Linked DNA regions of Homo sapiens: all the other regions are linked to region 2. Evidence: fine-mapped expression QTL. A gene starts in region 2. Each other region holds a variant in brackets. All regions are shown on one strand. Distances are from middle to middle.

Region 1 (8,176 bases), 56 kb after region 2:
CGTGCCACTGCACTCCAGCCTGAGCCACAGAGTGAGACTCTGCCTCAAAAACAAAAAAACAAAACAAAACAAAAAATTCCTGGACACCTTTCTCTGTCAGCCCACCTAGCTTCTGACTGCTGCATACCTTTCATAATAGGACTCTCCAGCCATGTGTCTGCCCCTCCCCTCGTGGTGGACCTTTGGTTCTTTCCATTTCTCATCAGTTCAAAAATGCGCATTGCGTGGCCAGGCACGGTGGCTCACGCCTGTCATCCCAGCGCTTTGGGAGGCCGAGGCGGGTGGATCACCTGAAATTAGGAGTTCAAGACCAGCCTGGACAACATGGTGAAACCCCATCCCTACTGAAAAAACAAAAATTAGCCAGGCGTGGTGGCTTGCGCCTGTAATCCCAGCTACTTGGGAGGTTGAGGCATGAGAATCGCTTGAACCTGGGAGGCAGAGGTTGCAGTCAGCCAAGATTGCACCACTGCACCCCAGCCTGGGCCACAGAGCAAGATTCTGTCTCAAAAAAAAAAAAAAAAAAAAAGAAAGAAAAGAAATGCACATTGTGTGTGTTGGAAAAGCCTCCCTGGATGCACAGGGCAGGGCTTCCCCGGGGCAGAAGCGAAGACTTCACTTGCACGCTACAGCCTTGGAAATGGAGGCCCGAGGGGCTGTAATGTCCCAAGGTGAGGTCACACCAGGCGTCTCAGCCCCTCCTTTCAGGCCCTAGAGCCTGGTGTCCCCCTCCTTCCTCTCCACTGGGAGTCTCTGCCCTGAAAGAGGAGGGGAGGGACTAGGAGATCAGGCTGGGGAAAGGAGGGAAGGGGTGACTAGGTAACAGGGGGCTTCTCCCTGTGATGCTAGCAGACCCAGTGGGGACAACTGGGGAGGCAGCACAGAGACCCCTGAGGAGCTACCACACTGGAGGGGAAATACAGCCACCAAGGGCCACTGGGCCCCAGGTCTCCTGAGAACCCTCTCCTGGGTGTCCTGCTTTGGAAAAAGGCTCTGTCCAGAGTGACACTGACTCAGAAGCTATCAGGTAGGGGCCCAGACCCTTTGAGCTCAGCCTAGAACCCTGCATCCGCCAGCCCTAGGTCCTCTCAGGCTGCTGCCCCGTCACATGTTCTTACAGTACAGATACTGCACAGCAGATCCGTCAGGTCAGCCAACGAACGCTCAGGGCCGGAGGAAGAGGCCAGCTGAGCCTGTGCAGCCCACCCCTTTTCACAGCAGACCAGGTGACAGAAACGCCAACTCGGGTCCCCGAGAGCTCCTGCCATGCTTTGTGCTGGGCCTGCTGGGGACATCCACGGAAGGCACAGCTAGCTGAGGTTAAACTGGCAGGAGGATTTAGAAACTTCTAGGTGACATCACACAATAACAAGCAGAACAGACCTAACTAAAGGTTAACTAACCAACCACTGACTGGGAGCTTGAAACATGCCACATACTGTATCGAGCTGGCTCCCATCTCTCCTGCACTGGGAGGTCAGTGTTATGACAATCCCCCTTCTACAGACCAGGAAACAGGCTCGGAAGGGCACAGAACTTAGTCCAGTCCTGCAGGGGATAAGTAACGTGCCTGGGACTCAAACCCAGGCCTGTCTGACACTGACCTTCTGCTACTAAATGGTTTATAACCTTTGGAGTATCCTGGACCTCTATGAGATTTTTTTTTTTTTTTGAGACAGAGTCTCACTATGTTACCCAGGCGGAGTGCAGTGGTGCGATCACAGCTCACTGCAACCTCTGCCTCCCCGGCTCAAGTGATTCTGAGGCACAAGAGTACAGCTCTGGAGTAGCTGGGTTTACAGGCATGTGCCACCACACAGGGCTAATTTTTGTATTTTTAGAAGAGATGGGGTCTTGTCATGTTGGCCAGGCTGGTCTCAAACTCCTGACCTCAAGTGATCCGCCCACCTCAGCCTCCCAGAGGGCTGAGATTATGGGTGTTAGCCACTGTGCTGCCACCCTTTGAGATTCTAATGGAAGCCTGGAGCCCTTTAACCAGAAAAGTGCCTTGGTGTAAACACAACATGTGTGTGCAGGGCCTGCTTCCTGGGCATATGGCCTGGGCAGTTGCACAGGACCCCAAATTCACAAAAGCCCCATTTTTGGTTTAATGCTCTGCTGTTGCCATCATGAAATGCTTAATGCTTTTGTACAAGGGGTGCCACATTTTCATTTTGCCCCGGGCCCTGCAACTTCTGTAGTCTGTCCTGCATATGCGACACTGACACACACATGTCCACATGCACCACCACTTTGCAAATGACTTTAGGTGTGCAGGAATCCTATAGGCCATTATAGACTCAGGAGATACCCTTTCGCTTTGCCCTGCACCCTGGCAAGCTGTGCACACGTGCATGTGTGTGTGGAGGAAACTGTCAGGTGGATCTGAGTGTGGGCAGGGAGCTGGGCCAGCAAGCAGGGGAGGGGGCGGCAAGGCCAGCATCGACTTCCACACAGACCGTGACAGCAACTCCTACGCCTCCGGGAGAGGGAACCAGTCCTGGTAATAAATAGCCCATATCCTCAATCCATGTCCTTAAAAATCTGTCCCCTTCTTGGACAGGACAAGGGGCCTTTGTCAGGCATGGTGGCCTCAGAATAAACACAGGAAGGCGACCAGTGGCGGATGATCGGGCTGCTGTCTGGGGCAGAGTTTTCTAAGTCAGGCTTGGCATTTCACTCAGAATGCTCCTGCCTGTGGCCAACTGGAGGGATCCCTGTGCCCACGCCTGAAAGCAAGAATGTCCAGGCCGGGCAACGGGGCACAGAGATGGTTACACAAGCCTCTGAGGACAGAGAGAGCACCCTGAGCCTCTGCAGTCGGGAAGCGGCAGCTGGTGTGGGAAGGGGCTTTATACAATCTTCCCTTGATCTGTGTGATCTTGGGCAAGTGGCTTAATGTCTCCATGACTCAGTTTCCTATCTGTAAAATGCAGGTGATCATGATACCTACCCCAGGATTTTTGTGAATGTTGAATTATTGTCTAATGTCCTTCCAACAAAGCACAATAAATAATAGCTGTATTTATCATTATCATTATTATTATTTGAAACTAGGTTAGAGGACCAGGCTTCAACATAGCTGTGCTTTTAGTTTCACTGTTTGTTCATGTTATTTTTTAAAATCAGTTAAAGCCCCATGTGAGAGATCATATGCGGGGAGTGGGGAGGATTCACCAACAAAGGTTGGAGAATTAATACGGGGATGAAAAGCACCCAGGGAGAGACACAGGGCTGGTGTGTGTGTGTGTGGGGGGGGGG[GT/T]CATCCCATGACACAAGAGTCTGGAGTGCCTGGGAGGGAACGGGCCAGAGTCTAAGGCTAGGCTCTCTTCAGGGGAAAGGTTTGGAAAAGGAGCATTTCTTTTCTTTCCTTTTTCTTTTTATTATTATTTTTTTGAGACAGGTCTGTCATCCAGGCTGGAGTGCAGTGGCACGATCACAGATCACTGCATCCTCGCCCTTCTGGGCTCAAGCGATCCTCCTGCCTCAGCCTCCTGGGTACCTGGGACTACAGGTTCATGCCACCACTCCCAGCTAATACATTTTTTAATTTCTTTGTAGAAATGGGGTCTTGCTATGTTGCTAGGGCTGGTCTCAAACTCCTGGGCTCCAACTATCCTTCTACTTTGACCTCCCAAAGTGCCAATGTTACAGGAAAGGGGTCCCCACCCCATGTCCCAAGAGAGGGTTCTTGGATCTCGTGCAAGAAAGAATTCAGGGCAAGTCTGCGGTGCAGTGAAAGCAGGTTTATTAAGAAAGTAAAGGAATAAAAGAATGGCTACTCCATAGACAGAGCAGCCCTGAGAACTGCTGTTTGCCCATTTTTATGGTTATTTATTGATGATATGCTAAAAAAAAAAGGGGTGGATTATTCATGCCTCCCCTTTTTAGACCATATAGGGTAACTTCCTGATGTTGCCATGGCATCTGTAAACTGTCATGGCGCTGGTGGGAGTGTAGCAGTGAGGATGACCAGAGGTCACTCTCGTCACCATCTTGGTTTTGGTAGGATTTAGTGGCTTCTTTACTGCAAGCTGTTTCATCAGCTAGGTCTTTATGACCAGCATTTTGTGCTGACCTCCTGTCTCATCCTGTGACTTAGAATGTCTTAACTATCCGGAAATGCAGCCCAGTGGGTTTCAGCCTCATTTTACCCAGCTTCTATTCAAGATGGAGCTGCTCTGGTTCACATGCCTCTGACACTGGAATTACAGGTGTGAGTCACCTTGCTGGCCTCTTTTCCCTTTAGTAACAGCCAAGGGGCTGTTTCTGTGTCTTCACATGTGACAGATTCACGTGTGACACATCACTGGGCTCCGGGCTTGCGCCCAGCCTCGTCTTTCGGCCCAGTCACAGGAATAAGGTGCTCCGGGGGTTGTGAGCAGCCTCCTGGCACAGAGCAGGACAGGGTGTTGGGGGGCCAGGGAGGCTGGCAGTGGGGACTGGAAGGAGGGTCCCATGCTTTACCCCCCCACACACCCAGGGCTAAGAAGAGTGCTGCCCTGGAGTCCTGGGGCCTGAGAGGAGGGGGATTTAGTCATCACTGTTCACCCTCCCCCAGTATTCCAGAGGAATTGCAGCCATCTCTGTGGACAAGGCAGCTTGTTGTCTGTGAGCACTTTATGATTTTGAAATTCATCCCTGCCATAATTATAAATTAACATTTGGAGGGCTTTCTACATGCCAAGCTCTTTTCTAAGCCCTCCTGTCCGCCTTTTTTTGGAGTCAAGGTACCACTCTGTTGCCCAGGCTGGAGTGCAGTGGCTACATCTCAGCTCACTGCAGCCTCGATGTTCTGGGCTCAAGTGATCCTCCCGATTCAGCCTCCTAAGTAGCTGGGACTACAGGCATATGCCACCACGCCGGGCTAATTTTTAAATTTTCCATAGAAATGGGATCTCGCTAGGTTGCCCAGGTTAGTCTCCAGCTCCTGTCCTCAAATGATCCTCCTGCCTCGGCCTCCCAAAGTGCTGGGATTACAGGTGCGAGCTGCTGCATCCGGCCTCTTTTTAAGCTCTGTCTGCATTATCTCATTCAAATCTCACAACATTCACAACGTTCAGGGCTGAGAAAACTGAGGCTGTGAAAGGGACAATCACAAGCCCCAGGTTGCCCAGCCAGGGAAGCACTGTGAGCCGGGACGGGAACTCAGCTCAGGGGAACGTCAAAACTGTGTTCTTAACAACAGTCAGCCCAAACATTGGGTCCCTAAGCCCATGGCTTCAAGCTGGCCCTTCTCTGTGGGACAGTAGCAGCCCTCCCATCTGCTGATGTTTCTCTCTACCAGCCCCTCAGCATCTGGACAAGGCAGCTGACCCCTTCCACGTGCCCACATACCTTGGTAGCAGAGGGACCTCTCAGCATTTTTACTGGCTTTTCAGATTAAAAAAAAAGTTAGCCAGGTGTGGTGGTGGGCACCTCTATTTCCAGCTGCTTGGGAGGCTGACGCCCGAGAATTGCTTGAACTCGGGAGGCGGAGGCTGCAATGAGCCGAGATTGCGCCACTACACTTCAGCCTGGGCGACAGAGTGAGACTCCATCACAAAAAACCCCCAAAACAAAAAAAACAAAAACAAAAAAACTGGGAGAAGAAGGAAATGGGGAGGAGTTGAGCGGAGGCTCAGGAGAGTCAGGCAAATGAACCACAAGAAGCTGGGAGAGGGGCTGATCTTTCCATCTCCTGTGAAGGCAGCCGTGACATCCTCCACTGGAAGGATGAGTACCTGGGGCTGGAAGGGGTTGCACAACTTGCTCAAAGCCACCAGCCTTGTTCCTGACAACCTGACACCCTCACAGACCCACCATTGTCCCCCTGCCCAGAGTTCCAGCACTGCGTGGGGTGAGGCGGGAGGTGAGGCAGTGTTTGCAACAGCTCAAGGCCGCAGTCCAGGATGACCCTGCCTCCCCTTAAGCTGCCTGCCCGAGAGAACAAACACAAGGCTGCCGCCAGAACTGTTTGTTCCAGCCAAGCCCCGAAGATAGGGCCCCTGCTCCCACTCTCTGTAGGAAGATAGGAGCCTCACTCCCATGGCGCCGGTTAGCATTGGACCAAGCTCCTTCTCCCGGCTTTTTGTAATGTATCACTTTGTCCCATCCATCCTAATACACACACACACACACACACACACACACACACACACTCACAGGAGGACTGGTCAGGGTTCCCTGCACATGACCCTCATATTTTGTAGGGGAAACTGGGATTCATTTCGGATCATCCACTCTTTCCTCCCTCCTAAGACCATGTTCCTCATATTCCGCCACCTCAGACGAGGTGGGGCTCAGTCTTTGTTCAAGCCGTATTGCTTCAGCCTCATAACTTCAAGACCTTGAGCAAGTTACTTTACACCTCCAAGCCCTGGTTTCCTCATCTGCAAAGTGGGAATAATAAAATAATCTAGTTTGCAGAGTTGCTGAGAGATTGTTTTATTTTTGTTTAGTTTCTGTTTTGTTTTGCTTTTTTTGAGAAGGAGTCCCGCTCTGTTGCACAGGCTGGAATACAATGACGCAATCTCGGCTCACTGCAACCTCTGCCTCCCGGGTTCAAGTGATTCTCCTGCCTCAGCCTCCCGAGTAGCTGGGATTACAGGTGAGCACCACCAGGTTGGGCTAATTTTTGTATTTTAGTAGAGACGGGGTTTCACCATGTTGGCCAGGCTGAACTCCTGACCTTAGGTGATCCGCCCACCTCAGCCTCCCAAAGTGCTGGGATTACAGACGTGAGCCACCACGCCTGGCCAAGATTGTTTTACGTCAACAGCGAAACAGTATCTGGTACAGAGTAGGTGTTAAACAAATAATTGCTATTGTTATTTTGTTATTATCTGGTCCTCACCTCTATCCTCAAAAATAGCTCCAGTTGACTCAGTTATTCCTCTTTTATAAATCACTACCAAAACCAACACTTATCAAAACACCACTCTGTATCCCATAAATATATACAATTATTATATGTCAATTGAAAATAAAAGGGAAAAAAACCAATACAAACAAATAAAAAACACCCAGGTGTGTTTCAGCATCTCTCGTCTCCTTGGGGCACTAACTCCTTGCCACACTTCACCTGCATGAGAGCTGAGTAAGCTTCTGGAGCTTTGGAGAAAGTCTGGGGTCAGGAAATTGGGAGATGTTACTGGCACCTGAGAGGGGGAAGCTGTGAGTGGGGACAGGAGAGACTGCCCAGCTGCAGCTCAAGTCCAGAGTGGTTCAAAGGGCATGGCTGGGGGACAGAAAGCGTATACTCCCTTGCCTCCTGTACTAGTGCAGGAACTGTGAAATAGGCATTCAAATATGCAACTGGCAGGAATGTCATTTGTACAACCATTTCAGAACATTGGTTGGTAGGCTGGGATAGTGGCTCAGGCCTGTAATCTCAGTACTTTGGGAGGTTCAGGTGGGAGGACTGCTTGAGCCCAGGAGTTAGAGACCAGCCTGGGCAACATAGGGAGACCCCATGTCTATTATTTTTTAAAAACAAAAACAACAACAAAAAGAACATTAGTTGGCAGCATGAATTGAGAGATACTAAAATGTAGATTTTTGTTGTTGTTGTTTTGAGACAGAGTCTCACTGTGTCGCCCAGGGTGGAGTGCAGTGGCGCGATCTCGGCTCATTGCAGCCTCTGCCTCCTGGGTTTAAGTGATTCTCATGTCTCAGCTTCCCAAGTAGCTGGGATTACAGGCATTTACCATCACACCGGGCTAATTTTTGTATTATTAGTAGAGACGGGGTTTCACCATGTTGGCCATGCTGGTCTCGAACTCCTGACTTCAGGTGATCCACCCGCCTTGGCCTCCCAAAGTGCTGGGATCACAGGCGTGAGCCACCACACCCAGCCTAGATATTCTTTGATGCTAAAATTCTGTTAACAGAAATGTATCCTAGGAAGATAATAGAGTACGAGAAAAAAAAACCCCAGAGATGCAGATTGAGTTTTTTACATAAAGAGGTTCATGTTATGCTATTTAGAATAACAACAATTTGAAAGTAAATCTAATGCCCCAAATTAATGAGTAGTGGCACGACGTGTGACACCTCTGATTTAGCGAGGATTAGATTCACTCTTGAGTAATAGAGCACCCAAAATTACAGCAACATTATGAAACACAAACTTCACACACATTCCAGAGATAGGCTGTCCAAGGCTAGCGTGGTGCCTCCATAATTATCAAGGACT
Region 2 (8,176 bases):
CTTTTGTTTTCTAGAATATTGTAAATTGATAGATTTAGGGTATAAATATATGTGTTTTCAGAGATTAACTCAGTTTGCTGCCAGTGCTTCTACTGTGCTCTTACTGGCTATTTTCATTTATACCTGCTGCTGAGTCATGACCACCCAAAATCTACATGTTGAAGCTCTAACTCCCAGTAACTCAGAATGTGACTGTTTATTTGGGGATTGGGCTTTTAGTGGGGTGATTAGGTTAAAGTGAGGCTGTTAGGGTCGGCCCTAATGCAATCTGTCTGGTGTCTTTATAAGAAGAGGGAATTTGGACACACAGAGACACCAGACTAGTGTGTGCACAGAGGAAACGAAGACACAGCAAGAAGGCGGCCACCCTGCAGGCCATGAAGAGAGGGCTCAGGAGAAACCAGACCCACCAACAGTTTGATCTTGAACTCTGAGCCTCCAGAACTGTGAGAAAATAATCGTCTGTTGTTGAAGCCACCCAGTCTGTGGTACTTTGTTACGGCAGCCCCAGCAATGGATACACGTGCTGTAATGCAGAAGCTTATGCCAGACTCTGTCTTCTTCTGACCAGACACTAAAGAGATTTGTAAAACTGTAAAACAGTGCCACTCTCTTACTAATTTGGGGGAGCGGTAGAGACGGTTGTTTTTCATAAAATATTCTGTTAATATGAAATGGGTACATTTATTATTTTAAAATAAATTTAAATTCTTAATTTGATTTTCAAATACAGTAAATATCACTATATATATAACTCACAGAAACAAAAGTTCTTTGGGGTCCTCAATAATTTTTTAGTGTTAAGGGCTCCTGACGCCAGAAAGTTTGAGAATGGCTATACTATACTATACTTCCAAATGGGATCCTATTATATATGATCTTATATAACGAGCTTTTCTCACCCAGCAATACATAGTGGATCACATTGGTCTTTAATAGATACAGATCTACATCATTATTTGTAATGTCTGCACAATAGTCTGTTACAGGTATGTTTTATCCTTTAATTAGGTGGTTCCTGGCTAATGGACATTGAATTGGTTTCCAGGATGGGCTATTATGAACAATTCTGGATCTTTGTGTGTTTATCTTTTTGTGCTTGTGGGGTCATCTAGAAATGGAATTAAATGGATTTTAAGATACATTCAGGCCAGGCACGGTGGCTCATGCTGGTAATTCCAGCACTTTGGGAGGCCAATGCGGATGGATCACATGAGATCAGTTTGAGACCAGCCAGACCAACATGGAGAAACCCCATCTCTACTAAAAATACAAAATTAGCCGGGTGTGTTGGTGCGTTCCTGTAATCCCAGCTACTCGGGAGGCTGAGGCAGGAGATTTGCTTTTGAACCTGGGAGGCAGAGGTTGCAGTAAGCTGAGATCGCGCCATTGCACTCCAGCCTGGGCAAGAGCGAAACTCGATGTATTCAATTTGGGTTTCTTATGAGGAAACTAAGGTTTCTCTTCTCCATTTTAGAATTGCTAAATATTAAGTGCAAACAGAAAAATGTGTAAAATATATGTACCACTTAATACATATACCTAGCAGCAGCTCCTCATGTTTGGGGCTATTGTCTTGAAAAGGCTAACCTGCCAGTAATTCTTTCAAACATGAGGAAAACCAAGCTGGGTGTGGTGGCTTATGCTTGTAATCCCAGCACTTTGGGAGGCTGAGGAGGGAGGATCACCTGAAGCCAGGAGTTCAAGACCAGCTTGGCCAACATGGTGAAACCCCATTTCTACTAAAAATACAAAAATTAGCTGAGCATGGGGACGGGCACCTGTAATCCCAGGTACTCGGGAGGCTGAGGCAGGAGAATCCCTTAAACTTGGGAGGCGGAGGTTGCAATGAGCCGAGATCGCACCACTGCTCTCCAGCCTGGGCGACAGAGTGAGACTCCATCTCAAAAAAAAAAAAAAAAAAAATTGAAAAACCTTTTCTTTTTCTTCTTTTCTGTTTTCTTTTGAGAAAGAGTCTCGCTCTGTTTCTCCAGCTGGAGTGCAGTGGCACGATGCTAGCCCAGTGTAGCCTTAATTCCGAGGCTCAAGCAGTCCTCTCACCTCAGCCTCCGAGTAGCTGGGACCACAGGCATGTGCAACGTGGCTCATTTTTTAAATTTTGTATAGAGATAGGGTCTCGCTATGTTGCCCACGATGGTCTGGAACTCCTAGGCTCAAGCCATCCTCCTGCCTCTTGGCCTCCTAAAGTGCTGGGATTACAGGTGTGAGTCAGCACACCTGGCCCTTTTTTTCTTCTTTGTAAACTAAAACTATTGGCCATTTCCTACAAGTTTTACACCAGTCATCTGGAAATTTGGGTTCTTCTTCCTAAATAGCATTACTATTGGCTTCACTAATGGGACTGGAATGTTGTTGATTAGCTTTCGACACAGGACTAGTATTGACCCAGCTTGAAGGTGCTACAGAAGGCAAGTCCCACTGGAGAAGCTACCTGGGACTGTGGGAGCCATTTTGACCCTCAGAGTCTGGAGACAGCTATTGTCATATTGATGGGCATCTTGACAGCACCTTTCCAAACTCTTTATTCAGCAACTTTGGTAACTCTGGAAGCCCCTAAGATAGCACAGGAATGGGAGAGCTGTGGTATCTGGTACCTATCTCCTAAGTGCCTTAGAGATATATAGCTAGCTTTGCTAAAAACGAAAACAGAAACAAAAAAAAAAAAAACAACAAAAAACTAGGATTGTAGGATTGAGATGGTGGAAAAGATGGCAAATTTTGATGAATCTTCAGAACTATGGGACACCGTAGCCTTCTCTTCCCAACCAGAGGAAAGACTAACTTTTTAAAAAAATGCCCATTATGCCCACTTAGTATGTAATTTTGCTTGCACTTTACAGCAGTTTTAATGATGGTATTACCATTAGTTTTAGATAGAAAATAGGTAATTGCTCAAGAATCCAGCCAGTAAGTGGGATTCTGTCCTCTAGTCTCCACGACAGCAAGCCGTGCTCTCTCACTGTACAGCGCCAGGACACACCCAGGAAGAATGCTTTATTACTGTGAGATGAAGACGTCAATGGCCAGGGCCTCACTGCAGCACCACCACTAAATCCAACAGCAAAGGAAACAAGAAAACATGGAAAGGGAGCTATTGTTTTCTGTTTTCCCAACGAGACTCCGGCCTGAGCCACTGAGGCATTCAGAGTTCCCAGATAGGCCAGATTCAGGGTGACAAGGAACCTTGTAAGCTATGTTTTTTCCTACTGATTAAGATTATGTTTTTTAAAGCATTTTAAATTTTTATTTTATTTTTAGATCACAGCAGCTAAGTCTTTTTATAAAAACACAATCTAGGGCTTGGGTCCCAAAAGTTCACTAGGTTTTGTCCCATCAGATGATGTTTCCTCTTTAATGTATTTGTAATGTAAACCTGTCCCCATTTCTGCTGTGCTCTTGGGACTGTGGCCAGCCTCCAGCCTTCCCCGCTGGTATGTCAACATTTAAATCTACAGCCAATAAGGAGGGTCGCAGTTTCAACAAAACCCGAAACACCTCAAACAAAACCAGCACCCCACCCCAGCCCCCCACTCCCCGGCTTCCCCAGTGGCTTATTCAAACTAACTTGAAGTCAAAAAACCATAAGCAAATATGCCTTTTCCAAATTTGCAGCCTCCAAGGCAGATGAAATGGTCAGACATTTGCCTTTTAGGGTTGTCCTGGGAAGAGCTGACAAAACGGGTGACAGCCCCTAAACAGCTGCCTGGGGAGGAGGACATCTGCCTCTGTTTCACCAGCCACTCAGTGCTCAGGCCTTGCCTTGCGCAACGCGGTGCCGCTGGGGAGCAATGGTTCTGAGCAGCCAGTTGTTATACGGCTTTTGTCTTAACGAAGCCACCCATTACGGTAGAGCCATAACTCGCAGGAAGCCAGCTGTCAGGGCTGTGGCGCAGGCCCCTCTGGGTGGGAGGCAAGGGGAGAAAAACAGTGTCTGGCCAAATTCCCTTTCCGACACCTGAGCCTGGCTGGCTTTGTAACCGGAGAGTTTTGTGCCCTCTCCCCCATCCCATCTTCCCCGGGGAGATCCTGGGGCCCTTCTTGCTCTCCATCCTTTGAGGGAGCTCAGGGACATTTCGGGATTCTGGATTTCTTGGTCTGCAACTCCCTGTGTGCCAGGCGGGGCTGGGCCCCGCTGCGGCTGGCTGGCGTTTGGCGCTCTCATCGAGGGAGCGCTTCGCTTTGAAATCTACCCACTCCTTTTTTTTTTTTTTTTTTAAACCAGGTATGATGATGTCAAACGTGATGCTGATGCTACAGTTACAGCCCCTGCTGGCGCAGCCTCTCTGATTCTCTCTCCCTCTCCGCGTCCAGTGCTGGGCTTTTTCAGACAAGTGCATCTCCTAACCAGGTCACATTTCAGCCGCGACCCACTCTCCGCCAGTCACCGGAGGCAGACCGCGGGAGGAGAGCTGAGGACAGCCGCGTGCGCTTCGCCAGCAGCGGGGTGGGAGGAAGGACATTAAAATACTGCAGAAGTCAAGACCCCCCCAGGTCGAACCCAGACCACGATGCGCGCCCCGGGCTGCGGGCGGCTGGTGCTGCCGCTGCTGCTCCTGGCCGCGGCAGCCCTGGCCGAAGGCGACGCCAAGGGGCTCAAGGAGGGCGAGACCCCCGGCAATTTCATGGAGGACGAGCAATGGCTGTCGTCCATCTCGCAGTACAGCGGCAAGATCAAGCACTGGAACCGCTTCCGAGACGTGAGTCCGCAGGGCTGCCAAGGCAGAGACCCGGGGTTGCGGGTTCGGGGATTGAGCTCCGGGGTCTGCGGGAGCGGCCGCCGCACGTCGCAGCCCGAGGCTCCGCAGCCTGGCCGGCTAATTACACGGAAAGTAAACAGTACTGGGGGTCACAGCCCAGCGCCCCTCCCCTGTCCCTGCGGCCCGGGCCGGCGGCCCTGGGACCCCCCAGCCCCGGGACCCCCAGCTCCACACCTGCCCGACGCTCCGGGGTCGCGCGCTCCGGGGTCTCCCCTGCGGGCCGGGAGTGGGAAGGGGTGCGGGGCCGGGGGGACCCGGACCCCGGCTGCCGCTGGACCCCGACCCGGTCCCCAGCTGCGTTGTGCGAGCCGCCCCCGGGCCTGCCCCAGCCGCTGGGATGCTGCAGGCTGCACATACGGGGCACTGCAGCACCGGCAGGTCTGGGTGGGGCCGGCAGTGAGGGTGGCATCGGCTCGCGCGGTGCCCTCTGTTCCCACCGTGGGCTTTGCGGGAGGGGGACAGCATGGGACGGGAGTGTGACCGGGGCTCTGGGTCTGGGGTCCCAGCAGCCTTCTAGGCGAGATGGTGGAAGGCGTGTCCGTACGGGGGTGGGCTGGGGTCCCCGTGCAGAAGGGCGCGCGAGGACCCAGGCTGGTTTTCCCGGACCAACATTTCAGGGGGGAATCCAGCCTGGAGCGAGGGGAGCAGCTCGGAGCCAGAGGAAGGCTCCCGGCCCGGTGGGCTTGAGAAGCCGGGGAGAGTCCAGAAGCTGGGTTTGGGGGCCCCCGGCGGGCGCCGCCCGAACCCCGGCGTAACCTTGGGCCGAACTCCGCGGGGTGGGGGCGGGGGGGTAGCTGCGGCACTTTTGTTTACCGGCACCTGTGGATCAGAGGGGAAGTCGCAGGCGGCGGCCCGGCGGGGCTGGCTCCTTCCTCTCGGCCGGGCCGGGTTGGGGGCTGGGGAAGCAGGGGTGAGGCAGGGCGGGCGGAGGGTGTGGCTGGACCCCGAGATCGTTGGGGGTGCTGTGGGGGATGGGCCCGGATGCGCCAGAGGCGACGCCGGCTGCTCCTGGCGACCTGGTGCTCACCGCGGCCCTGACCCCAGAAAACCTCTTCTAGGACCCTGGCCCTTACTCCTCCTTCCCCAGGTTCCCTCGTCCGACCCACCCAGTACAACGCAGGCCACACCATGACCTCTCCCGTTTTCTCCTTAAACTGCGTGCATCCACAAGTTCCTTGGAAATTTGTTTAAAACACACATGCTTCATAGGCTATCCAGCCAAGTGATGGGAAGAGGCAGAGATTTGGATCTTTTTGTTACCGTCAGACAAGTGACTGTTTCTCCCCAAAGTCAAACTGGCAGGTTGTAATTCACAGAGGACAGCAGGAACCACGGGCAGCCAGGTCTCCAGGCTGAGTGGCCGGGCCCCGCGATGGGCTGCTGATCTCCGCCTTCGCCCCACATGCGACCTGTCCAGCCGCAGGAGCCTGGAGCCCCGCGAGGCCTTCCCGAAGCACCTGCAGGCCCAGCGCAGATGAGCCGCAGTCTCCTGCCGCTTCCTGGGCAGCAGCCCGGCCACAGCAGCGAGGGGGCGGCAGCAGGCCGGCCCATCCGGAATCCATGTGTCACTGGCCTAGGCCTCCCTCCGACTCGCTGGCTGTTTGATCTGCCAAAATGGGACCAGTGAAGGTCAGAGGGAAAAGAAATGCTTAATCAGAACAGGAAAGGTTTAAAATAAAAGATTCCTCCCCACCTCCCTTCTTCCACCTGCTTCCAATAGCCAGCTCCGTGGGTGAGAATAAATGACTTACTGCTTGACCCCATGGCACTGGGCTACCCACCTGTCTCTCTGTATTGGTGCCAACCACTTCCCCCTTCCTCTCATGCTCATCAGAAGAAAGGCACTAGATTTGAAAGTCTTCAGGACTTGCACATGTAAGATTCATGGGAAAGCTTTAGGTGTGTGTTGATTTTGGTAGCCTCAGGCTTTTGTAGGACAGATGTCCTCTAAAACCCCATTTAAGGTAGTCCTGGCTGCAGGAGGACAGGGTCAGGGAGAGAAGTAGGACAAAGAAGGCTGGGCAAGAGGGCCTGGCCCTGGGGATCTGTTGACAGCCTCTGCAGAAAGGCAGGAAGGAGGCTGCTAGCTCAGAGCCACTGCATTGCATAACTCTAGGGGTGCCACAATAGAAATGGTGCCCCCTGAAGTTGTGCAGTGCCCAGACAGTACACAGGGTCCCCACCAGCACTACAAACATATCCCTCTTCTGCCAGAAGAAGCCCTACTTCCTGCCTAAGGGCTGAAGGCACTCTAACTGGGCCCAGTAGCAACGGGCTTTATATTTCCATTAGGCCAGCTCTTTGGAAAATATGCTCCTTGGTTCCTCAAAGGAGAGAGGGGAATTTCGTTTGAACCCCTTAAGGGGTTACAAGGTTGAACTGGGACCTTGTTCATAACCCCAAAATGGTACAGGGCCCCCCTATTTGTCCTAGTAGGGTGGAGGCAAGCAGGACGAGTGGGATACTCTTGGGGAACAGGATTGGGAGGGAAATGCCTCATTCACATGGTGTGGACAGAACTGAAGGGGGAACTTGAGGGAATCAGGTTGAAAGGGTCAGGAGAATGAAGAAGAGCATGAAAACTTGGGGAGTTGCTCCACTTTGGAATTGGCCAGAGCTGGTTGAGAGGGAGCGCAGCTTAGCATCTTTCTCTGAGCACTAGGATTATAGGGAAGGCAGGATTTACCAGTTGAGTAATCCTCCCCTCCAGTGGGCTGAGGGCTCTTACAGCCTGTGCCTGGGTCGATCTCTTCTAATGCTGGGTGCCCGGCTGCCAGGGAGGAGGGGATTCTGGCAGAAGACGGGGGAGATTGTGGACTCCGCCTGGCTCCCTGGCCTACAGATCTAGCTGTACCCTGCCCTGGGCAGTCCTGGGCTTTTCCAAGCCCTGCTCTTCGATGCTCCTACCTCCCAATTCACTCCCTGCACAACTGGGTGGAATTTAATGCAGGTCTTTGGAACAAAGCATCTAGGGCCTAGAGGGATGGACACTTGGAGGAGACAGGTCCATTATACAGCATTCTTCAGGGCAGGCTCCACAGAGCTTGGCTACGAAGAGCTGACTGTTCTCTTTCTTCTTGGCTCTTCTCTACTTTGTACTCCACTTCTATGAAGTTTTCATTATATTTATGAGTGTCTAACACAGTGCTTGGCACCCAGGAGGCGCACAGTTCATATAAGTTGAATCCCTGATGCAGTGAGCACTCACATCTGCCATTAAATTAAATCAAATTAAAGCACTTTAATTTGAGTGGTCTCTTGTGCCTCTCAAGGATCTGGGAGATAGTTATTGTTACTTTACAGCCTACCATTTTATGGTTGTAGAAACTGAGGCACAGAGAAGTAATTTACCCAAAGGTCAAATAGCTAGTAAGTAGCAGAGCTGAGATTTGAATCCA
Region 3 (8,176 bases), 27 kb after region 2:
CCATTCTGTACTTTCTTGGGCAGGAGGCCGGGAACTGTCCTCATTTTACAACCAGGCAGGCTTCCAGCTTGGAGAGGTGGGGACTTCCCAAGGTCGCAGACAAGTTAGAGGCTGGCTGCCGGTTACAGTCATGCGTCACTTGACGAGGGGGATACATTCTGAGAAATGCATCATTAGGTGATTTTGTCACTGTGCAAGCATCATAGGAGTACTTACACAGACCTTGGTGGTGCGGCCTCCTGTGCACCTGGCCCATTGCTCCCAGGTTACAACCTGTGCAGCATGTTATGTGCTGAATACTGCAGGCAGTTGTAACACAATGGTAAGCATTTGTGCATCTAAACATAGCTAAACATAGACCGGGCGCGGTGGCTCACGCCTGTAATCCCAGCACTTTGGGAGGCCGAGGTGGGTGGATCACCTGAGGTCAGGAGTTTGAGACCAGCCTGACCAACATGGTGAAATCCTGTCTCTACTAAAAATACAAAAATTAGCCAGGCATGGTGGCAGGTGCCTGTAATCTCAGCTACTTGGGAGGCTGAGGCAGGAGAATCACTTGAACCCGGGAGGCAGAGGTTGCAGTGAGCCAAGATCGTGCCGTTGCACTCCAGCCTGGGCGACGAGAGCAAAAATTTATTTTATTTATCTCAAAAAATAAAATAAGGCTGGGCGCGGTGGCTCATGCCTGTAATCCCAGCACTTTGCGGGGCTGAGGCGGGCAGATTATGAGGTCAGGAGATCAAGACCATCCTGGCTAACAGGGTGAAACCCCGTCTCTACTAAAAATACAAAAAATTAGCCAGGCGTGGTGGCGGGCGCCTGTAGTCCCAGCTGCTCGGGAGGCTGAGGCAGGAGAATGGCGTGAACCCGGGAGGCAGAGCTTGCAGTGAGCCGAGATCGCGCCAATGCACTCCAGCCTGGGTGACAGAGCAAGACTCCGTCTCAAAAAAATAAATAAATAAAAAATAAAAAAATAAACATAACTAAGCATAGAAAAGGTACAGTAAAAATAGTGTTGTAATCTTATGGGGCCACCGTCCATTGTTGACTGAAGTGTTGTTGTGTAGCGCGTGGCTGTATTTTCAGGCCTGGGAGTTCTCTCTAACATTCCCTCTAGCATTACGTTCCCCTGGGCTCTCTCATACTTGGGTGTCTGTGTGTTCACCCCACCTCCTCTTCTGAATCCTGTTACTCCTCTCATGGGTCCCTAGGACTTCTTGGGGACCTCAGGTCATCCACAGCTGTGGAATGAGCTCCCCTAAATAGAGAGTGAGCGTTTTCGTGCCATAGAACCCTTGTACTTCCCACCCCTGCTGTGGGGTGACCCCGTGTCAGAAACGGGGTGTTTTCATCTTGCAGAGCCCCTGCCTGGGTCTCTAAGCCTTGAAGGGCTCAGTGCATCCCCCCAGCACCAGGGGACAGTCCCATCAGAGGCTGCTTCTCTCCCCACAGAGCCCCCCTGCCTGGCAGAGCTGGAGCGCATCCAGATCCAGGAGGCCGCCAAGAAGAAGCCAGGTGAGGGGCCAGACCAGGCTCTCAGAGGAGGAGGTGGGGACGGCTTCCTGGGTTTGTCTGAGACCCAGGGCCTCCAGCCTTGGGCCTCATGGCAGACATGGAGCCCAGAGGAGGCCCTGGCCTAGGAAGACAGAAGAGGGTTGCCCCCTTCCTGTGTCTATCCTTGTGGTGGGGCAGGGACTCCCAATCTGCCCCGGGAAAAGTGTGTTTTAGGCACTAATTTTATGCCCATCCATGCTGGAGCTAGAGTTTGGGATACAGAAGGATCCTGGAACCCTCCACTGAGTTCAGTTTCCTTCAGCAAGGGTGTGACTAATGTTTTAGTGAGGCCACTCCCTGAGTGACACTCACTCACATGCTCCATAAACACCTGGGGGCCGGCCCCAGAGATACAACAGCAATAGACCCAGCCCAACTCTGAGCGGATGGCAAGAAGGATGCACTCCCTGGCCTCATAACCCTTTAGCTCGGGCCAGTCCGGAAACACACAACACACAAATGGACACACTAAAAAGACAGAACTAGCAGTGTGACCTGTACACAGGCGCCTGGGAGCTTCAGCTGGGGAGCCTGCAGGAAAGCAAGTGGGCCCCGGAGGCAGGTCGGACTCAGAGTGGCTGGGAGGAGAAGGCTGGGCCTTCCTAGCAGGGGACAGCCAGGCCGGCGGAACTGTGGGAGGATGGAGAGTGTCAAACCTGGTGAAGTCAGACTGGCTGTCCTAGAAGACTTGGGCCATGGAGTCAGGGAAACTGATGGGGCGGCTGGGAGCTAGCACAGGGGCCTGAGCAGTGGTTCAAGGAAGCGGGTTTCCTCATCTCCAGCGAGTAGAGCCGAAAGAATTGCTGGCTGGTGTCCAGCTCTCAGCATCTGGGCCTGTTGGGGGGTCAGCACCCGGTCTGGCTGGGCTCTGGGGGTGTATAGACTTCTGCTCATGCATGAGGACCTGAGGTCACCTCTCTGAGGGGCCCACAGCCTGGGCCCCTGCTCTGACCCTGCCTGGCACTGTCTCATTCAGGCATCTTCATCCCGAGCTGCGACGAGGATGGCTACTACCGGAAGATGCAGTGTGACCAGAGCAGCGGTGACTGCTGGTGTGTGGACCAGCTGGGCCTGGAGCTGACTGGCACGCGCACGCATGGGAGCCCCGACTGCGGTACGGGCTGGGCAGCTCAGGGCCTGCTGGGGGCCCAGGCCTGGGGGCCCTTGTCGTGGGATGCTGGGGGGTGCGTGCCAGAAGCTCCCTCACCCCCTGTTGGCTTGATCCCCTCACAGATGACATCGTGGGCTTCTCGGGGGACTTTGGAAGCGGTGTCGGCTGGGAGGATGAGGAGGAGAAGGAGACGGAGGAAGCAGGCGAGGAGGCCGAGGAGGAGGAGGGCGAGGCAGGCGAGGCTGACGACGGGGGCTACATCTGGTAGACGCCCTCAGGAGCCGGCTGCCGGGGGGGACTCAACAGCAGAGCTCTGAGCAGCAGCAGGCAACTTCGAGAACGGATCCAGAAATGCAGTCAGAAGGACCCTGCTCCACCTGGGGGGACTGGGAGTGTGAGTGTGCATGGCATGTGTGTGGCACAGATGGCTGGGACGGGTGACAGTGTGAGTGCATGTGTGCATGCATGTGTGTATGTGTGTGTGTGTGTGGCATGCGCTGACAAATGTGTCCTTGATCCACACTGCTCCTGGCAGAGTGAGT[C/A]ACCCAAAGGCCCCTTCGGCCTCCTTGTAGCTGTTTTCTTTCCTTTTGTTGTTGGTTTTAAAATACATTCACACACAAATACAAATTGACAGGTCAAAATCCATGAAATGAGATCCCCCAGCCGTGTCCTCCAGCCCAGCCCTGACCCCTTGGTTTCTACCCTGGCTCCCCTTGGTTTCTACCCTGGCTCAACCGACCCCTGTCTGCCCTTCTCCCTCTTGCTTCTGAGGTCAAGCTCTGGCCTGCGAGCCTGTCCCCATTGCAAAGGGGAGGGAGGGGCAGGGAGCTGTCTACCAGCTGAGGTCCTCCCAAAACTGGGCCGATGTGGTGTGACATCCCCACCAGCCTCAGATGAGACGGGCCAGGACGCCCAGCCACAGCAAGCCCTGTCCCTTTGCCGGATCCCCAAACACTAGAGAAGCTCTCCTAACCCAAGGCGGAGAATGAAGGTGGTGGCGGCAGAGGAGGAGGGCAGCAGCTGAGAGGCCAGGGACAGGGTGCCTCGCCAAGCTGTCTGAGGTCTGTCCCAGGTGGCCCAGGTGGTGCAGGTAGAACAGGGTGAGGAGAGGGGGTCGGCTCAGCAGGAGGAGGCTGTGGCTGCAGAGCCTGGGGGAGCTTTTAGGTGTTGAGATGGGGCAGCTCTGAATCCTAGACCCTGGAATAGCCTGTCCCTTTTCTCTGGGTCTCGTGGTGGAGCCATGATCTGGGCTGCTCTCTTGGGGACACTGGGTGGTGGTTACACAGTTGACCTCTGCCTGGCTCCCCCTTGGTGCAACTCCTGCCTCCATCCCCCTTGCTGGGGTCCCCTCATCCACTTGAGGGCGCCTGAGGGCCAGGAGCAGCAGGCAAGGAGCCTGGGTCTAGGCTAAGGGGGTGTGTGCCCACCTCCTCCCTGACCCTTAACACTCCTGTCCTGCCCAGACCAACAGAGAGAGCTGTCCCTGAGACCCCGGAGAGAAGCAGCTGCCGAAAGCTGCAGCCTTTCCGCACTCTGAGACCATGATCTTCCTCCTGCCAGGGGAGAGCCACCCACAGGCCATGTCCAGCCCCACTTCCCTCAGCCCCCAGGGCTTCCTTCTGGCCCCTCTGAGGATTCCCTAGGGCTGCCCCGCAGAGGGGCTTCCCCAAGCTCTGTTTTGAAGCCTGCAATGTGGAAAAGTGAGAAGTCAGAGGGAACAGGACAGGTGCAGCCGGGCTCTGAGGCCACACCTCACACCTCGCTGTTCCCCAACATCCCCTGAGCAGTGTGAGCTCATCTCACCAGATGAGAAGAGGCCCTGTGCATTTCTTTTGTTTGTTTGTTGCTGTTTTCCCCCACCCATCCAGTTCTCCTCAGCAAAGCAAATTCCTTAACACCTTTGGTGGAGAATTTCTTACCCAGACTTGGGGCTGTGATGCCCTTCAGTGCGTGGTGAGTGCAGCGTGTGTGCGTGTGCCTGTGTGTGAACCTGGGGGCCATCCTGGTGGCCTGGGAGCGTGAGGAGAGGCCCCCTGTGTGCTGGGTGAGTGGTGGGTGTGGGGTCAATGCAGTGAGGCTCTCTGGGTGAGGCTCCCAACCTGGCAGTCCCCAGCCTCCCAGCATCTGTGAGCGTCTGTTGGACTTTACAGAAGAGCCTCATCCTGTCTGCCCCTCACTCTGCCCTGGAATCAACATCTTCCGAGTCCTTCTTGGGGGAAATAGCAGAGCCCCACTTAACTCCATAAACTGCTTCCCATTCCGCAGCCCAGTTCTGATTGTTGAGGTGTCGCGTCGTTCCAGGTCCCCCAGTCCCCTCTTTCTCCTGTCCTCTCTCTGTCCTTCACCTCCCCACTCCAGCCCCGGCTCAGTTCAGGGAAATGCTGTTCCACATCAGCCCTCTGCTCTCTGAGGCAGCCGCGCCTCTGACTCGGAGCTACTTGAAACTTCTGCTCTTGCTAGGATTGGAGTCTACCTATCTCTTCCATTTGTCCCAGCTGGAGTTCTGGAACTTTCCTCCTCGGGGTGGGGGTGGGGGTTGTTAAGGATGCTGGGGGGCCTGGGGAAGGAAGGAGTTCAGAGGAAGGGTGTCCCCTGTCCTCTTGATGTCACCCTCCGCTCCTGGGACACGTGCTCTCTCTGTCTCTGGGTCTTCTGGCTGTGCACGTTTGTGTGTCCTTGTAAATATGTTTTAGGAAGAAAGCAAAAGGGACTGAACTAGCCTCTGGTAGGATTGCAGGGGTCCAGCCTTGCCTGTTTCCGAAGCCCCCACACTGCCTTTCGCCCTACTGAGACTGGTCCCCTCAAAAGGTAGACAAAACAGCAGCTCCCTGTGGAGCTGAAGGGCGGCCTCAAAGTGGCTTTTTGTTAGACAAGGTTAAGGTTTCCTCATGAGCAAGGTTGCAGATCGGTCCTTCCTCAGCTCCTTGATTTGTGACCTTGACCAAGGGGCCTGCCACCCAGCCCCTCCAGTGCCCTCTCCTCGATGCCTCGCTCCTTCCTGCCCCCACTCCCCTGGCTTAGGCAGGTAGGGGAATTAGGGCCATGCTGGAAGAAGCTTAACCATGTGTTCAAAGAACGGTTTCTTGCTTGCTTGGTCCTGGAACTCCCCTTGGCTGCCCCAGGCCTCCTTGGCCCATGGGTGCTGGGGGAGGTGGATGTCAGATCTGGTAGGTTGCAGCAGAGAAAATAAATGTGCCTTGAGAGACCACTCAGAGAGGGTCCAAGGGTGATGGAGAAGGAAGCATGGCCTGGGAGCTTGGAAGGGAGGGGTGGTGGGTGGCGGCATCTTGACTGCCCCCTGTTGTCCCACACGTGGGGGGTGGTCACCCCCCTTCACTCCAGCCCGCCTGCCTTCAGCCTTCCATGAGCTTCACCTGCTTCCAACTTCACTTTGGAGGGGGTGGGGTCCGTTGGCATCAACACGGGGACCCTCTGCTTCACCAAAGCCCGAGCCCTCAGCCCCTGGGGAGAACAAATGGCTGAGCTTTGATACCTGGGGTCGTCGAGAGGCTGCGGGCTGGCGGCAGTCCCAGGGGAGAGACACCACAGAAGGAGACCCAGACATCCCGAGGAAGTTCCCAGCAGAGCAAACTGCTTTCCAGCCTGAAGCCTGCTTAAACTGTGTGATGTGCAATAACTGAGCTTAGAGTTAGGAATTGTGTTCAAGTGCTTGGATTTCCGTCTGTAGATTTAACTGCTGAAATTGTATCTCTCAGTAATTTTAGATGTCTTTTAAAAAATTGAAAAACAAAGTGTTAGACTGTGTGCGTGTGCGTTGATGGGCACTCAAGAGTCCCGTGAGTCATCCAGCCCTGCCTTTCCCCTGCGCCCCCATCCTCTCACGTCCCGCCCCGCCTCCACTTGGGGACCCTGCCTCGTGTCGTCTTTATCTGCCTATTACTCAGCCTAAGGAAACAAGTACACTCCACACATGCATAAAGGAAATCAAATGTTATTTTTAAGAAAATGGAAAATAAAAACTTTATAAACACCATCTGCTGGCAATACTCTGATTATTCTTACCCTTGGTATTATTTTTCACGAAAACAGCATTTATGGCTGAGCGTGGTGGCTCACACCTATAATCCCAGCACTTTGGGAGGCTGAGGCAGGACAATCCCTTGAGCCCAGGAGTTTGAGACTGGCCTAGGCAACATAGTGAGACCCCGTATCTATCAAAACAAAAAAATTAGGCTGAGAAGGAGGGGCAGTGGGTGAGGCTAAGGATTGCTTGAGCCTAGGAGGTTGAGGCTGCAGTGAGCTATGGTCGTGCCACTGCATTCCAGCCTGGGCAACAGAGGGAGACTATCTCTTAAAAGATAAAAATACAGTACAGTACAATTCAGTGGCATTTAGTACGTTCGCAGTGTCATACAGCCGTCACCACAATCCAACTCCAGAGCATTTTCATCCAGGGTATGAGCTTTTCAAAGACTTCAACCACCTCTTAGCAAACGGCTTGTGAGAAAGGTAAAACCAGTTGAGACAGCGCCGCTAGTGGAGTATGTATCGGGCCCTTACATGCTTGTTAGCATTATGATTCTAATTTTTAAATTTTTTTTTGAGACAGAGTCTCGCTTTGTCGCCCAGGCTGGAGTGCAGTGGCACGATTTTGGCTCACTGCCACCCCACCTCCCAGGTTCAAGTGATTATCCTGCCTCAGTCTCCCAAGTAGCTGGGACTACAGGCACCCGCCACCATGCCTGACTAATTTTGTATTTTAAGTAGAGACGGGGTTTCACCATGTTGGCCAGGCTGGTCTCGAACTCCTGACCTCTAGTGATCCTCCCGTGCTGGCCTCCCAAAGTGCTGGGATTACAGGCGTGAGCCACCATGCCCGGCCCATGATTCTATTTTTTTATGTATTTTTATTTTTTATTATTTTTTTTGAGACAGTCTTGCTCTGTTGCTCAGGCTGGAATGCAGTGGTGCAGTCTCGGCTCACTGCAACCTCCGTCTCCCCACTTCAAGCGATTCTCCTGCCTCAGCTGCCCAAGTAGCTGGGACTACAGGTGTGTGCCACCATACCCGGCTAATTTCTGTATTTTTAGTAGAGACAGGGTTTCACTCTGTTGGCCAGGCTGATCTGCCCACCTTGGCCTCCCAAAGTCCTGGGATTACAAGCATGAGCCACCACGCCTGGCCAGTGTGGCAGAAGAATACCTAAATGTCTTACTTTTATTTCTGGGATTATCTGAGCTGGGGGACTGTCGTCATTATTCTGTGACTTTTCTTCTCTTGGGCCTTGCCAACCCCTCACTAGACGTGTCTTTTAACAAATTGTTTGCGGTGTGGAGGGGGATGGAATCTGGGCACAGGAGCTCTAATCTCTAGCCCTGGAGCTTGCTAACTGTGGCCTTGGGCCAGGATCTGCTGGATGGATCACCTGTGGTAACCAGCCCCCGTGCTTTCCAAACAGCGAAAGCCCCCGGTGCCAGCCTGCAGCCAGGGCACGCTCTGCCCGTCTGGCTGGAACGACTCCTTAGGAAGGGAGCTTTTCTGCCATTCATT

The links. PIP is the estimated chance that this variant, and not a neighbour inherited with it, causes the effect.
Region 1: its variant is the best candidate, but not a certain one, in a credible set for the expression of SPOCK2 in whole blood (INTERVAL, PIP 0.72).
Region 3: its variant is the best candidate, but not a certain one, in a credible set for the expression of SPOCK2 in whole blood (TOPMed, PIP 0.87).

What each region holds. Positions count from the first base shown.
Region 1 is chr10:72,028,671-72,036,846 of GRCh38, reverse strand. It overlaps LOC124902448 (a long non-coding RNA gene), which reads right to left. Exons shown (of 2, transcript XR_007062187.1): 2 at 7,928-8,176. Among named protein-coding and RNA genes, the nearest start is that of SPOCK2, 56 kb to the left of the region's middle. The variant GT/T (reference allele first, on the strand shown) is at 3,262.
Region 2 is chr10:72,084,682-72,092,857 of GRCh38, reverse strand. It overlaps SPOCK2 (SPARC (osteonectin), cwcv and kazal like domains proteoglycan 2), which reads left to right and starts at 4,307. Exons shown (of 11, transcript NM_001244950.2): 1 at 4,307-4,718. The coding sequence starts at 4,530.
Region 3 is chr10:72,057,517-72,065,692 of GRCh38, reverse strand. SPOCK2 (SPARC (osteonectin), cwcv and kazal like domains proteoglycan 2) reads left to right here. Exons shown (of 11, transcript NM_001244950.2): 9 at 1,453-1,515; 10 at 2,531-2,668; 11 at 2,788-6,659. The coding sequence ends at 2,933. Among named protein-coding and RNA genes, the nearest start is that of SPOCK2, 27 kb to the left of the region's middle. The variant C/A (reference allele first, on the strand shown) is at 3,208.